2 separate regions of the Homo sapiens genome follow, and region 2 is linked to region 1. The links come from fine-mapping of genetic effects on gene expression. Tissue or cell type: whole blood. Region 1 holds a variant in brackets; the other region holds the start of a gene. All regions are shown on one strand. Distances are from middle to middle.

Region 1 (5,148 bases):
AGAAAGCTGCTCATTATCTAGTCTAAGCTGGTTCTTGGCTACAGGTAAGTACAGTTGTATGGCTGTTAGTATTCACCAACCATTCTGCAGTATTTTCTGCCAAATTGCAAAACAGTTGATTGATGTGGTTACAGTCAAGTTCTCCTCCATCTCTCGCCTGTAAACACATTCTTTATGAGGTAGTTTCTATTCCAGTCAGAATTAACCATGCTTGGTACTACAGATTAAGATCTGACCTGCTGGGCTGTGGAGCAGGATGTGGCCATTAGCCAAGAGGTCTCTGGAGTGAATTCTCACCAAGCTGTATATGCCAAGGGAGATACCACCAGTAGAGTTTATTCTGCTTATTATGTTTCTTCATTGTTGATCTCCTTGGGGAAATGATTAAAAGGAATGACTCACTCTCTGCTCAGTCTTCCTTGATTGCTGTGACTTATTTTTGTATTTGTTTTGTCCTAGTTGTCTCTATCAAGTTGAAGCCAGAGTGGGCTATGACATGCCAAGCGCTCTGTGTACTAATTGTTGCACTGTATCATTTTGTTTAATTTTCATAGCAATATTTCCAAGTAGGCATTATTAGCCCTGTTTACCTGGTGAGAAAACTGAGGCCCAGAGAGGTTAAACAGTTTGCCAGTGATCATGCAGCATAGCTAGAATTGGAACCCAGATTTAATATTAAGAAAAAAACTTTTTAGTGCAGTATTAGAGAACAATCCTAGATTTAATATGCCCATAAACATTTATGGCTACCTACTGTCAATGTCAGGCACTTTTCTAAGCCTTAGAGATACAAAGGTGAATAAGAATGGTTCATTCCCTCAGGGAGTTTATAATCTAGTGGAGACTGATACATGAAGATAGGTATTTACAGTGGTGTATAATTATTGCATTAACATACTTATGTACACAATGCAGTAAGAACACAAGAAGTGATTCACTTCAGCAGGCAAGTGGTGTGTATGTGCAGGTAAGACTTCTCCGAGATGTTTAACATTTCTTGAAGGATGTGTAGGATTGTACTGGGGTGGGGTTAATGGTGGTAAAAAAACATTCTGGACAGAGCCACAGTGTATGTAAAGGCTCGGTCATAGTCATTGTGTATTTACTTGCGAGGTACTATACTAAGCTGGATACTGGGAATATTACAATAAATAAGATGAATATCATTTCTGCCTTAACAAGGCTTATACTCTGGCAAGGAATATTACATTTCTAATAATTAAATTATTATAATAATTATAAGCTTGATGTGGGTAATGAGAGGGTAAATACAGAGTGCCGTGAAAGCATCCAACAGGCACCTAATACAAACTAAGGTGTCAGGTTAGGCCACTTTAAAGAAAGAAAGTTTAAGCTGATATTTGAAGTAGGAATTCGGAAAAGAAACAGGGAAAAAGAGTATTTCAGGCAGAGGAAATAACAATTTCAAAGTGTGTTAGGTGCCCTAGAATATGGCGAGCTCAAGAAATTGGGAGAGACTGGTGTTGCTGGGCAAACGGAGAAAGAGAGCTGGTGGTGAAAGAGAAGTCTTGAGAGGTATGCAGAACCTTGAGGCCTTATTAAAATACTGGTTTTTATCTGAAGATCAGTGGGAAACCATTAGGGAGTTTTAAGTAGGGAATGACATAATCAGATAGTGGCTATGTGGTGAGTAGACTGGAAAGGGCGAGAATATACAGTTGACCCTTGAACAGTGTAGGGGTTAGGAATGTCAACCCTTTGTGCAGTTGGAAATTTGCATAAACTTCAGAATCCCCCAGAATGTAGCTACTAAAAGCCTGCTGTTGACTGGAAGCCTTACCAATAAGATAAACAGTCGATTAACACATATTATGTATGTCATATGCATTATATACTGTATTCTTAAACTAGATAAAATGTTAAGAAAATTGGCTGGGTGTGATGGCT[T/C]ATGCCTGTAATCCCAGCACTTTGGGAGGCCAAGGCGGGCGGATCACAAGGTCAGGAGATCGAGACCATTCTGGATAACACGGTGAAACCTTGTCTCTACTAAAAATACAAAAAGTTAGCCGGGCGTGGTGGCAGGCGCCTGTAGTCCCAGCTACTCGGGAGGCTGAGGGAGGAGAATGTCGTGAACCTGGGAGGTGGAGCTTGCAGTGAGCGAAGATTGCGCCACTGCACTCCAGCCTGGGCAACAGAGTAAGACTCTGTCTCAAAAAAAAAAAGGGAAGAAAATCATAAGGGGCTGGGCACGGCAGCTTATGCCTGTAATGTCAGCACTGGGGTAGGCTGAGGCAGGTGTATCAATTGAGGTCAGGAGTTCAAGACCAGCCTGGCCAACATGGTGAAACCCCGCCTCTACTAAAAATACAAAAATTAGCGAGGTGAGGTGGTGCACACCTGTAATCCCAGCTACTTGGGAGGCTGAGGCATGAGAATCGCTTGAACCCAGGAGGTGGAAGTTGCAGTGAGCCGAGATTGCACCACTGCACTCCAGCCTGGGCGACACAGCAAGACTCTGTCTCAAAAAAAAAAAAAAAAGAAAATCACAAGGGAAAATATACTTAGTATTCATTAAGTGGAAGTGGATCATCTTATAGGCATCCTTATTGTCTTCACGTTGAGTAGGCTGAGGAAGAGGAGTAGTTGGTCTTGCTGTCTCAGGCGGCAGAGGCACGAGAAAATTCACATATAAATGAACCTGCGCAGTTCAAGCCTGTGTTGTTTAAGGGCCAACTGTATATGGCCTGGTAAAATAGGAGGCTTTTCAGGCAAGAGAACCATTGTACTAAAAAAGGAGATTAAAGACAGGAAAAGGGATAAATAATGAATAATCCCTTAGAGCTGTGGTTCTCAAACTTTAGCATGCATCAGACTCACTTGAAGGCCTTGTTAAAAATAAATTGGTCTTTGTTTCTTGCTCTGAAGAGATGGAAATAAAAAAGATTGCCGGGCCCCAACTCCATAGTTTCTGACTCGGTAGGTCTGGAGTATGTTCTGAGAATTTGCATTTCCAGAAAGTTCCTGGAGTGTGCCAATGCTGCTGCCCAGGGACCAGAACCACTGCCTTATAGGGCAGGAAGGTTAGAATACTGAGCACAGAGTACAGTATTAGTCTTAAGCAGGATACTTCCTTCATTGTGACAGAGAGAAAGGATTGGGTAGGACACAGCTAGGGTGGGTTTATATACTGGGTAGAAGGAAATTGTTGTAGTTCTCATCTCTTTCTTGTTTTTTCTTAAGTGTGATAGATCATTTATGGATAGTAGAAACAGAGGTAGAGGTAGATGGGATTGGGGGGAGTGGGTAATAGACAGGAAAATCAGAGGTTTAGAGAGTGGGGTAAAGGTCTAAAATAGCCATCGTGAAGGATAGAAGATGGCAAACTAGGTAAGAAAATAGAAATATTGCTGGGTAGCCTTGAAGATGGAGATCATGCATTTATAACAGTGGTACTGATCTTTAAGTTGTGTGATTCTCCTCAGTAGCTCTCAGCAACTCTGTCAAGAAAAGCCTGATAATTTGATTCATCCAAGATAGGAACTTTGCTAGGTAGTTTGTACAGAAGGAAAATGAGGTATGGAAATCGAGGTTGTTGTAAAAAGAGTGATGAGAGATAGTATGAGAAAGTATAAAAAGAGGCAAAGATAGCAAGGCGCTACAGAAGTAGACAAGTTTGGCATTTAGTGGTTACCATGATGGGAAGCAGATGTCAGAGGAATGGGTAATTGTGAGTGCTGGAAGGATAGGAGGCGGTGGTCAGAGTATGTAATATTTGAATTTAAGATTTTGGAGGTGGTAAAGTTCTGATGGCAGAATCTAGGGTGAGCTGTGGAAGAGGGTTGCTGGGGTAGAGTGGAGAAGAAGTTTATTGGAGGCAAGGAGCTCAAAGAACCCAGCAAGCTCAAAGAACGTGTTAAATGAGTTACCCATGTGGACACTGAGGTAGTCTTTAATGATGGTGATGGTGATGATGATGATGATGATGATGATGATGATGATGATGACAGCAGCAATAACTGATGTTTACTGAGCATTTACTATATGCCAGGTACCATTCAGAACCCTTTACGTGTATTAACTCTTAATCTATACAGCAAATCTTGTGAATTACTATTACTGTTCCTGTTTTTTTTTTCTTTTTTTTTTTTTCTTGAGACAGAGTCTCACTGTGTCACCAGGCTGGAGTGCAGTGGTGCGATCTTGGCTCACTGCAACCTCTGCCTCTGGGTTCAAGTGATTTTACTACCTCAGCCTCCAGAGTAGCTGGTACCACAGGGGTGTGGCACACCCAGCGACTTTTTTTGTATTTTTAGTAGAGATGGCATTTCACCATGTTGGCCAGGGTGGTCTCGATCTCCTGACCTCGTGATCCGCCTGCCTCTGCCTCCCAAAGTGCTGGGACTACAGGCATGAGTCACTGTGCCTGCCCGTTCCTGTTTTATAAATGAGGAAACTCAGGCAACACAGCTAGGTATGTGGTACAACCAAGACTTGAACCTAAGCAGGCTGATTCTGTACGGACTCAGTCCTCTTTTTTTTTTTTTTTTGAGATGGAATTTTGCTCTTATTGCCCAGGCTAGAGTGCAATGGTGCGATCTTGGCTCACTGCAACCTCCACCTCCCGGGTTCAAGCAATTCGTCTGCCTCAGCCTCCCGAGTAGCTGGGACTACAGGCATGAGCCATCACGCCCAGCTAATTTTTTGTATTTTTAGTAGAGACAGGGTTTCTCCATGTTGGTCAGGCTGGTTTCAAACTCCTGACCTCAGGTGATCTGCCTGCCTCGGCCTCCCAAAGTGCTGGTATTACAGGCGTGAGCCACCACGCCTGGCCTGTCCTCTTACTGGCCTGTCCTTTCTTACTGTTCAGGTAGGACTTGGGATGAGGAGGACTTTTGAAAGCCAGATGTCAAAGTCACCAGTAAAATAGGAAGAGTGACGAGTAAATTGGGAGATGATAGCTGCAATGAGAGTTGAAGTGGCAGCAAGATGGCAAAGGAGAAGAGGTTTTCACAGGGAGGTAGAAGAATAATGGTTTGCAGAGGACATTGGGAAGCAGCAGCAAAGAAAATACCTCCAGCATACTATAGGATAATTATGGCCCGTGAAATTAGAAATGGATAAGTTAGAAAAATGGTAGATTTAGATCTGACAGTCTCCTGGAGGATGGTGAAAATTCAAACTTGGGTC
Region 2 (5,148 bases), 820 kb before region 1:
GAGCAGAGATCGCGCCTTTGTACTCCAGCCTGGGCAACAAGAGTGAAACTCCGTCTCAAAAAAAAAAAAAAGAAAGAAAGAAAGAAAAAGCTCATCAACAAGGCCATCGAGTCCCTGCACGGGCAGCCCCTGCCACTCTCCCCTGCACCCACACACCATCTGCGTGGCTTTCTTCCCTTGGAGGGAGGTATCCCAAGCATGTTCTTACTCCTGCCCAGACACTCTCCCCAGATCCTGGCACAGCTGCCTCCTCCTTAGGATTCAGGTCTCACTGTGGATGTCCCTGTGAGAGCCACTCCCAGGTGTTGTCCATCGCATTACCCTATCCTGTCATGCCCCCCAGCACTTAGAAGCATCTGAGATTATCTTCTATTGTTTCTCCAATTTAGTGTCAGCTCCATGAGGGCAAGGATTTGTGTCTGTTCTGTTTATTGTTAAATCCCCATTAAAACTATTCCTCAGGGCTGGGCGCGGTGGCTCACGCCCGTAATCCCTGCACTTTGGGAGGTCAAGGCAGGTGGATCACGAGGTCAGCAGATCGAGACCATCCTGGCTAACATGGTGAAACCCGGTCTCTACTAAAAATACAAAAAATTAGCCAGGCGTGGTGGCAGGCGCCTGTAGTCCCAGCTACTTGGGAAGCTGAGGCAGGAGAATGGCATGAACCTGGGAGGCAGAGCTTGCAGTGAGCCGAGATCGCGCCACTGCACTCCAGCCTGGGTGACAGAGCGAGACTCCGTCTCAAAAACAAAAACAAACAACAAAAAAAAAACTGTCCCTCAGTATTCTCAGGGGATTGGCTCCATGACCTCCCTCCCATAGACACCAAAATCCAAGGATCCTCAAGTCCTTGATGTAAAATAAATTGGTTCAGTATTTGCATTTAACCTATACACATCCTCCTGTATACTTTAAATCATCTCTTGATTACTTATAATATCTAATATAATGTAACCGCTATGAAAATACACTATTGGCCGGCATGATGGCTCACACTTGTAATCCCAGCACTTTGGGAGGCTGAGGTGGGTGGATCACTTGAGCCCAGGAGTTCAAGACCAGCCTGGGCAACATGGCAAAACCCCATCTCTACAAAAATTAGCCAGGCATGGTGGTGCACGCCTGTGGTCCCTCCCAGCTACTTGGGAGAATGAGATGGGAGGCTCACTTGAGCCCAGGAGGTAAAGGTTGTGAATGAGCTGAGATAGCACCTCTGTACTCCAGCCTGGGTGACAGAGTGAGACCCTGTCTCAAAGAAAAAAAATTAAATATATCTATTGTTTAGGAAATAATGATAAGAAAAAAAGTCTGTACATGTTCAGCACAGATGCAATTTTGGTTTTGAATATTTTTGATGCAAAGTTGGTTAAACCCACAGATGCTGTGGACTAGACTAGGAAGTGCTAGGCATACACAGTATTTGTTGACTAGTGGCTGCACAGATTTATATACAGACATACCCGCCCCCACAACAATACTCAAATACATCACATTAATAGACAAATATACAGATGTGGGCAAAAATACCTGCCCGCACATTCACAGAACACACTAAACAGTCACAAAGACACCCAGGAGTCCCTTTTCCATCCCCATAGGAGTCAGTCCTAGTCCTCCCCCATCTAGATCTGCCCTCTACTTGAACCCAGTCTCGGGACTGGGGGAGTAGGGGTCTGCAGCCCGGACAGGGAGAGGGTCGCTGGCCCACAGGCCTCAGGCAGCGCCTTCAGCTATGTCTGCAATTTCCTCTCCCCCTTTCCTCCTCCTCTCTAAGGCTCCCGCCAAGGCGGCCTCCCCCTCATTCTAGCTCCAGCAAGGGAGGGGAGGTCCATGATGGGGGGGCCCCGTGGAGACAGGGCAGAAGGAAGCCCCCCGCCACACACACTGATCACACACCACATTGCATGCACAAGCCCAGGTGGGAAATGCGTGTGTGAGCACAGGCAGGTTTAGCCTTGGGGTGGGGGACGGGATGGGGTGGGATCTGCCACAAGCCGCCACAAGCTGCTTGGTGCACAAGAGCGCAGGAGCTCGCAGGCACAGAGGCCCCACGCTGGGGTCTGCGAGACTGCTGGCCGGGCCCTGGCTCAAAGCTGGAGTCCAACAATCATTAACCCTGCGTGACTAGACCAGAGCTCGGCCAGGGGACACATTCAAGCCTGGGCCCTGGAAGGAGGGGTGGACAGTCCCCTCCCTTCCAGTCCAGCATGGGTCTGGGGAAGAGAAGCAGCTTTGCCTGGAAGGGGCCTCCTAGGAGGGGGAGCGGTGGTTTCTAGCTCAGGCTTTAGGATCAGAGAGCAGCAGATTCAAATCCTGACGGTTTTGGTAAAGTCAATTCAATCTCTCCAAGACTCCGTTTATTTGATCTGCGAAGTGGGGATAATGGTATCACGTCGCAGGGTTGTCAGGCGGAGTAAGTGAAAGAACCTGTCCAAGGTTTAGCCCTTGGCCCGCACGCAGGCAGAGCTCCAGCCTCTCTGTTGTTGCTGTTAGTGGCCTGGGGGCGGGTCCCTGCCGCGGCCTCCCCGGCGGTTTCCTGTGGGGGACGGACGGCCCGCGGGCCGGGCTCTCCCTCCTCCCGGCTGCCCGCTCCTCTCCCCTTCCTCTCCCAGCCCTTTTCCTCCCCGCCTCCCCGCCCGCCCCGCCCCGCCCCGTCCCTCCTCTTTCCTCGGAGGAAACTTTCCGCCGGCTGGTCCCTCGGTCCGTGTCCCGCCCGTGCTGCCGCGGCCTGGGAGCCCAGCGGGGCCGGAGGGGCGGCGGGACCCGAGCGGGCGGGGGCGGCCGGACCCAGTGTATGCGGCCGCGGGACGCGCTGGGGCCGGGCAGCCGGGAAGCGGGGCGCTGACGGTGAGTGGGCCTGGCCCCGGGCCGGTGGGTCCCCGCGGGGCGGCCGGGCGAGGAGAGAGGCAGCTTCCCTTCCCGGAGCCCGCCTGGGGCGTGGAGGCTCAGCGTCCCTATCCTCCATCCCGCCCCGGGACGGCGGAACCGGGCCTCAGCTGGGGACCTCACCAGGGGGCGGGGCCTCCCGCGGTCCCCGGCGCTGCTCCCAGGACTGGAGGGGCGTCCGCGCCCGGGAGAGGGGTTCCCCCCGACAGGGCCCCGGGCCGCCACGAAGTTAGGGAAGCGCTCTCTCCAGGGTGGAACCTGGGCCCGCGGCTCCCGGGAGAGGAGCTGCCCGCGGAAGGGGTCGGGGTGGGCTCCAGGCTGGGAGAAGGATCTGACTTTGCTGACCTCGCAGGCTGGTAGGGGAGCTGCCCCCCAGAGCAGCATGGATGCCCCGCGAAGGGACATGGAGTTGCTCAGCAACAGCCTGGCTGCCTACGCGCACATCCGCGGTGAGGGCGGGCGCCGGAAGACTGGGGGCCTGAACCCTTCCCTGACCACCATCCCCTTCCCTCCCCAGCGCCTTGTCCGTCCCCTCCGCCCCGCTCCCCGCCCTCTTGCCCGCTGGCGGTTCCCTAATGCCCTTCGAGTAGGGGTTACAGGCCTCGCCCCCACACCTAGAACCTGGGGTCTTTCGGAAGTGGGACAACCCCCACCCGTCCGGGCCTCTCCGTGACCCCCGCCCTGTGCCCCGCAGCCAACCCCGAGAGCTTCGGCCTCTACTTCGTGCTGGGCGTCTGCTTCGGCCTGCTGCTCACCCTCTGCCTGCTCGTCATCAGCATCTCGTGGGCGCCCCGCCCGCGGCCCCGGGGCCCGGCTCAGCGCCGGGACCCCCGCAGCAGCACCCTGGAGCCCGAGGACGACGACGAGGACGAGGAGGACACGGTGACTCGGCTGGGCCCCGACGACACGCTGCCGGGCCCCGAGCTGTCCGCAGAGCCGGACGGGCCCCTCAACGTCAACGTCTTCACGTCGGCGGAGGAGCTGGAGCGGGCGCAGCGGCTGGAGGAGCGCGAACGGATCCTGCGGGAGATCTGGCGCACCGGGCAGCCGGACCTGCTGGGCACAGGCACGCTGGGGCCCAGCCCCACGGCCACGGGCACCCTGGGCCGCATGCACTATTACTGATGGGCCCCGGCTCCCGCTGCAAGGCGCTCGGGGTACCGGACCTGCACATGAGCTCAGAGCTACCCCACACCTTCGGACTGCCTCGGCCCCCACAGCTCCCAGGTGCTACTGGGCGTGGACCGCCACCCCCTGAGAGGCTCCCTTCCCCAGTCCTGCCAGAAGACCCCGGGGGCGGGGAGGGGGCAGCATGCAGGGTCCCCACTCCCTCTCTGGGGTCGATGAAGAGGTGAAGTGACCAAATGAAAGAAAGCTGCATTCTCAGTGACTCAGTCTCTCCCTCTGTTACTCCTGCCCCCAGCGACCCCCAGGCTCCTGCCACGCAGGGGCCCCAGGACTGAGGCCCAGCTTGACTCCCTTACCCTAGCTGCACCACCCCCACCCACCAACCCGACGATACAGCACACCTGCCCGCATTCACTTCACAGCCAGCAGAAAAGCAGAAGCCCACAGGCCTGCACCCAGCCTCACACACAGAGCAAGCGCGCGCGCATTCCTTATTCAAAACGCATTCCTTACCGGCAAACGCCTGGACACACGTCGCCCTGTCCCCACAGTGCCCTGGGTTCATACACTGCAATGACACACACACCAGGCCTCAGGACCCTGACCTCGAGGCTAAGGTGCTGCTAGCCCCGGTGTAAGCATGCGTGCTTGGGCTGGACGGTGGACTTCACGTCTGCGCCGAGGTGCGTTCAAGCGAGAGGGCAGGAGTCCCTCTGAGCGGACAGGGAGGCCAGCTGGGAGGGGTCCGAGCTGGCGAGAAGGCCCGCCCGGCTCCTCCCCGGCGCACAGCTGGATTCCGGAATCTAGGCCGGGCGTCAAGAGCCCGACCCCGCCTGGGCCCCTCCTGCCCGCCATTTCTCCAGTGCGCGGCTGGAGTCCGAAGGAGACACCCTCCCCCGCCCCTCACCATCCGGTGGATAAAAATAGCCGCGCGCAGGCCTTGGGAACGGTAATGGGAGCCACATGTTGGCCAGATGTGCCTGGGAGGGACCGTCAGGAATGCGGAGGCCCAGGCCCTGCCCCCGCGCAGGCCCCGCCCCCAGCGACCAGACCGGCGTGGCGCCGTGCTAGGCAGAGTTTACTTTCTCGCGTTTCCCAAAGTCGTGTGCAAGGACGTGGGTGGCCCCAGCCAGG

The links. PIP is the estimated chance that this variant, and not a neighbour inherited with it, causes the effect.
Region 2: it holds the start of EVA1B, and the variant in region 1 is fine-mapped to the expression of EVA1B in whole blood (INTERVAL, PIP 0.96).

The regions. Positions count from the first base shown.
Region 1 is chr1:35,501,239-35,506,386 of GRCh38, reverse strand. The region is part of intron 3 of KIAA0319L (KIAA0319 like); the gene reads left to right. Among named protein-coding and RNA genes, the nearest start is that of KIAA0319L, 54 kb to the left of the region's middle. The variant T/C (reference allele first, on the strand shown) is at 1,909.
Region 2 is chr1:36,321,158-36,326,305 of GRCh38, reverse strand. It overlaps EVA1B (eva-1 homolog B), which reads left to right and starts at 2,661. Exons shown (of 3, transcript NM_001304762.2): 1 at 2,661-2,847; 2 at 3,239-3,335; 3 at 3,581-4,276. The coding sequence starts at 3,269. The coding sequence ends at 4,011. It overlaps SH3D21 (SH3 domain containing 21), which reads right to left. Exons shown (of 16, transcript NM_001162530.2): 16 at 4,959-5,148. RefSeq lists silencers at 2,394-2,623, 2,714-3,073, 3,134-3,183, 3,274-3,463 and enhancers at 2,508-3,392, 4,279-5,148.